Regions from separate parts of the Homo sapiens genome. Here region 2 is linked to region 1. Evidence: fine-mapped expression QTL. A gene starts in region 1. The other region holds a variant in brackets. All regions are shown on one strand. Distances are from middle to middle.

Region 1 (2,910 bases):
TTGGTCATTCAGCCCCAACAGGCACTTAGGCCCTGATTATTTTGTTTAAACAATTTAGGTCGGGTGGGGTGGCTCACGCCTGTAATCCCAGTACTTTGGGGGCTGAGGCGGGCGGATCAGGAAGTCAGGAGTTCGAGACCAGCCTGACCAACATGGTGAAACCCCATCTCTACTAAAAATACAAAAATTAGCCAGGCGTGGTGACACGCGCCTGTAATCCCAGCTACTCAGGAGGCTGAGGCAGGAGAATCGCTTGAACCCAGGAGGCGGAGGTTGCGGTGAGCCGAGATGGCGCCACTGCACTCCAGCCTGGGCGACAGAGCAAGACTCCGTCTCAAAGAAAAAACAAACAAACAAACAAATAAAAAAAAAATTGTGACGATTGATTTAAGCATTTACTCACTGTCAGTATCACAGCCTGCAGGAGAAACCTCCAGAGTATATAGCAGTATTATGTGGGAAGTCTCAACTATTAACAAAATATATAAAACCGCTATCCTACATTAAATCCCCAAATCTTCTTCTAACATCTTGGGTTTTTTGTTTGTTTTTGTTTTGTTTGAGACTGAGTCTCTCTCTGTCACCGAAGTTGGAGTGCAGTGGTGCGATCTTGGCTCACTGCCACCTCGGCTTCCCAGGTTCAAGCGATTCTTCTGCCTCAGCCTCCCAAGTAGCTGGGATCACAGGCAAAAAGCTTGGATCACAGGCGTGTGCCACCACGCCCGGCTAATTTTTTAAGGGCCAGGCTGGTCTCGAACTCCTGACCTCAGGTGATCCGCCTGCCTCGACCTCCCAAAGTGCTGGGATTACAGGCGTGAGCCACAGCGCCGGGCCAACTCTCCAAACATCTTGTAGCCTCGGAGTCAAAGACCTTACTGGTTTTGATAGAGACCATCAACCCAACAGTCATCAATAAAAATTTACCCAAGGAGGTGCTCCCCTAAAAGTCGATTTTTTTTTTCTGACAGGTCCATCAATAAAGTATCAAGAGATTATCGGCAATATTACAAATCACTGGAGTCTGTTTGGGGTTTTCCAGAAGCTGAGCCAATTATTTACTTAATTGTCTAACGATTAACGACACCCCTTGTGCTTTCTGGGCCTGAGTTTCGTAATCGACGCCCTGAGAGGTATACAGTAATTTCAAAACAAAACAAAACAAAAAACAATAAACCATCCCTCGGAATAGAGCTTATCATGTGAGCACCCAGACAAGCCAGCTTCAAAATGAGGTGAAAACTACAGTTCCTCTTCCGTTTATCAGAGTTCTAACTGGGACTACCGTGAACCACATCTACTGCCCGAGGGGCAGGGAGAGCTGCCTCAGTCCCGGGCTTCCCTCTCGGTCCCTTCGCACCGCATCTCCCCGAGGCCGCTATTCCCGCCGCGCCCGCCCAGGGACCCGCACCGCCAGCGCCGTACCCTCAGGTTGGCCCGGAGACCCAGACTCTTGGCTAAGTTCTGCAGGTCACTGTACTTGAGGGAGTCCAGCTCCTCTAGAGAGGGGATGATCATCGCGATTCGAAATCCCGGCGATACTCGGAAGATGGATCACCAAACTTCGTCAGCGCGGTTCAAATCCCTGGCGCCACTCTTAACTTTGACTAGGCAGAAATTTATAGACAGTTTAAATGAAGAATGCCGCGCTTCCATTGGTTGAAAATGCCTCAAAGGCGGGGTTTCTAACCCTGACCAATAGAAAGGCTGATTTCCCGTCCCAACAGAGGCGCGCTTTTTTCACACTTCACGAATACGCAGGCGCCAAAGGGCCTGTAACGCCTGTTCAGGTAACGAGTGCGCGGACTCGGACTCCAGTGCTTGGATTGCCCATGATGTCCAATGAGGACGCAGGAGCTGTGCTTGGGGCGGGGCCTGGCGTGTATTCGAAAGGAAGGCGCCGGCTGCGGGAAGATGGCGGCTCAGCCGCTGCGGCATCGCTCACGTTGTGCAACGCCGCCCCGGGGGGACTTTTGTGGTGGCACTGAGAGGGCGATTGACCAAGCTTCTTTTACGACCTCCATGGAGTGGGATACGCAGGTGGTGAAGGGGTCCTCGCCGCTCGGCCCCGCAGGGCTGGGGGCTGAGGAGCCAGCCGCCGGCCCGCAGCTGCCGTCTTGGCTGCAGCCTGAGAGGTGCGCTGTGTTCCAGTGCGCACAGTGTCACGCAGTGCTCGCCGACTCGGTGCACCTCGCCTGGGACCTGTCGCGGTCCCTCGGGGCCGTGGTCTTCTCCAGTGAGTGCAGTGAAGCGTTCGGGAAAGGCAGAGGCTAGCCCGAGAGGGTGTTCCCGCTTTCTCCACCGGGTGGCGGAGAACCACCTGGGGAAGAAAACGGGATGAAAAGTTGGAAGCAAATAACTCCTTGGCCTGGGGATGGGGCAGGGAATCGGGGAGTCTCCTGATATTTACGGCCAGGATGAGTCTGTCTAGAGGAGAGATTTTCCATTTCAAGGCCCGCAGAGTATGGGTTCTGACCCGTGTTTGTCTTCCTAGGAGTTACAAATAACGTCGTTTTGGAAGCGCCCTTCCTAGTTGGCATTGAAGGTTCACTCAAAGGCAGGTACGTATTGATAATTACATTGGTCTCTAGTCCCTGACTTTATGAGACTGAGGATCGTGGAACTGACATGTACGAGGAGAAAACAGTTTGGGATGCTGCTTTTACCTGTTTGACTCTTATATGAACTTGATGTATTAATGAAATGAAAAAGTTGTATTTGTGTATTGGTTTTAGGATCTTCCTGAGGGCCACTTCTCCCAGGTGGCTTGTACAAGTGAAGTGAGGCTAAGAAAGATGTATCTAGTAGTGGACAAAAGAAAAAAATAACCTTTTGGTTTACAGTGAGAATAACATACTATAAACTACAATCCTTTTAGATATTAGAACTTTTTGATACAGGGTCTTGCTCTCG
Region 2 (2,910 bases), 73 kb before region 1:
AGCATGTATCCTGGATTTAGCAGACAGACGTGGTTTGAATCCCAGCTCTGCTACTTCAACAGCTGTGATAAGCATGTGACTAGCATGTTACTTAACATCTGTTTTCTTACCTGGGAAATAGGTGTAATATGAGTACCTACTTCACAGAATTGTTCTGACAATGAAAAGAGAAAATGCCTGAGAAGTGTTAAACTCAATGTCTAGCCTAGAAGCACTCATTACACCCTTCTTTGGGCCAGTCTTGTACCTAATACCTCCCTCTGCTATAGTTTCTAACTGTGCTGCAGTTATTTGTTTGATGACATGCCCTCTATTGGACTGTGTACCTGTTGAACACTGTCCTATAGTTCAGCAATAATAGCTAGCTTTTTTGTACATTTACCAAATAATTCCAATAATTATGCAAATATTTTACATATATTATTTGATTTAATACTGATTGGAAATGACATTAGGATCCTGCTTAACACAAACTCAGCAGCTTAAAAAAAAATTAAAGAAAAAGCTCTCCTGGCTGGGCACGGTGGCTCACGCCTGTAATCCCAGCACTTTGGGAGGCCGGGGCGGGTGGATCACGAGGACAGGAGATCGAGACCATCCTGGCTAACATGGTGAAACCCTGTCTCTACCAAAAAAAAAAAATCAGCTGGGTGTGGTGGCATGCACCTGTAGTCTCAGCTACTTAGGAGGGCAAGACAGGAGAATCGCTTGAACCCGGGAGGTGGAGGTTGCAGTGAGCTGAGATCACGCCACTGCACTCCAGCTTGGGCATCAGAGTGAGATTCGGTCTCAAACAAACAAACAAAAAAATACCCTCCTGGCCAGGCGCAGTGACTCATGCCTGTAATACCAGCACTTTGGGAGGCCAAGGTGGGTGGATCACTTGAAGTCAGGTGTTGGAGACCAGCCTGGCCAACATGGCGAAACCCTGTCTCTACTAAAACAACAAAACTTAGCTGGGCGTGGTGGCGCACCCCTGTAGTCCCAGCTACTCAGGAGGCTGAGGCAGGAGAATCGCTTGAACCTGGGAGGCAGAGGTTGCAGTGAGCCAAGATTGGGCTGCTGCACCTTGGCCTGGGTGACAGAGCAAGACTCCGTCTCCAAACAACAAAAACAGGCCGGGCGCGGTGGCTCACGCTTGTGATCCCAGCACTTTGGGAGGCTGAGGCGGGTGGATCACCTGAGGTCAGGAGTTGCAGACTAGCCTGACCAATATTATGAAACCTCGTCTCTACTAAAAATACAAAAATTAGGCAGGCATGGTGGCATGCACCTATAATCCCA[G/A]CTACTCGGGAGGCTCAGACAGGAGATTCGCTTGAACCCGAGAGGTGGAGGTTGCAGTGAACTGAGATTGCGCCATTGCACTCCAGCCTAGACAACACGAGGAAAACTCCATCTCAAAACAAGCAAACACACAAACAAAAAATGATCCTGCTACCTTCTAAGGTTGGCCAGGGCTGAACAACACTTCTGCCTCTTTTGTCACTGCCTGCAATATAGGGGACTACAGGGCTTCACCCATTCATATTCGGATTCAGAACAGCTTCAATGTCCTCTGGTCCCAGGCTTCTGAATGATGCTCTTACTGTTCATTTCCTTTTAGGCAGGGGCTTCTCTTTGTAGTTGCCTGCTCTTAGTTTCCCTCACTTTGTTCCCTTTGTCATATTATCATTTATGGCATTTGTCAGCCTTATGTCCACAAATAGATAGATGGTCCCCTGTTGTCTCCATGTCTAATTTGGATGGGTTTCAGTTGTTGTTGTTGTTGTTGTTTTCTTTTTTGAGGCAGAGTTTCACTCTTGTCGCCCAGGCTGGAGTGCAATGGCAAGATCTCAGCTTACTGCAACCTCTGCCTCCCAGGTTCAAGCCATTCTCCTGCCTCAGCCTCCCGAGTAGCTGGGATTACGGGTGCTCGCCACCACCCCTGGCTAATTTTTGTATTTTTAGTAGAGACAGGGTTTTACCATGTTGGCCAGGCTGGTCTCGAACTCCTGATCTCAGGTGATTCACCCGACTAGGCCTCCCAAAGTGCTGGCATTACAGGTGTGAGCTACCCTGCCTGGCTGGGTTTCAGTTTTGTTGTGAACAAAGGTATAGTTAAGATTTGGTGGAGCCCACTACCACTGTCTGGGAGGCCAAGGAAGAAGGTGCTACAGACATGGTTGGGTTAACCTACATAATCATTTCCCCTCAGCTCTTTGCCTTTATTTCCTTCCTTTATTTCCTATATTTCCTTCCCCTAGTGACTCTACCTTTTCTTCTGCCTGGCATTGTCATGTCCTTCCTTTCTATTTGAATATTTTTTTCTTTCTTCCAGCCTTCCTTTCTCCACTGGTAATAAATACATATGGGGCTTCCTATACTTAAGCAAACAGCCTGGCACAGTGGCTCACGCCTGTAATCCCAGCACCTTGGATGGCCGAGGTGGGTGGATCAACTGAGGTCAGGAGTTGGAGACCAGCCTGGCCAACATGACGAAACCCTGACTCTGCTAAAAATACAATAATCAGCTGGGTGTGGTGGCATGCACCTCTAATCCCAGCTACTCAGGAGGCTGAGGCAGGAGAATCACTTGAACCCGGGAGGCGGGGGTTGCAGTGAGCCGAGATCACGCCACTGCACTCCAGCCTGGGTGAGGAAGACTGTGGTTCAAAAAAAAAAAAGCAGCAAACAACTAATGATTAGAGACATGCAAATCAAAACCAAAATGAGATACCACTTCACACTCATTAGGATGGCTACTATATTTTAAAAACCAAAAAAACAAGAAACGTGTCAGTGGGCTTGGAAAGAAGGTGTGAAAAGATCAAAGATCAAAAACAGCAAGAGAATGCAACAGGATTTAAAATCAGTAAGAGAAGATTTTAAGGAGAGGAGCCAAGGACAGTCAAGCATTTCCATCCTAGAAGG

The links. PIP is the estimated chance that this variant, and not a neighbour inherited with it, causes the effect.
Region 2: its variant is the best candidate, but not a certain one, in a credible set for the expression of NUSAP1 in whole blood (TOPMed, PIP 0.50).

Annotation. Positions count from the first base shown.
Region 1 is chr15:41,331,563-41,334,472 of GRCh38, reverse strand. It overlaps NUSAP1 (nucleolar and spindle associated protein 1), which reads right to left and starts at 1,592. Exons shown (of 11, transcript NM_016359.5): 1 at 1,423-1,592. The coding sequence starts at 1,515. OIP5 (Opa interacting protein 5) reads left to right here and starts at 1,882. Exons shown (of 5, transcript NM_007280.2): 1 at 1,882-2,233; 2 at 2,492-2,558. The coding sequence starts at 1,912. RefSeq lists an enhancer at 1,869-2,128.
Region 2 is chr15:41,404,473-41,407,382 of GRCh38, reverse strand. No RefSeq gene overlaps it. Among named protein-coding and RNA genes, the nearest start is that of NDUFAF1, 3.4 kb to the right of the region's middle. The variant G/A (reference allele first, on the strand shown) is at 1,285.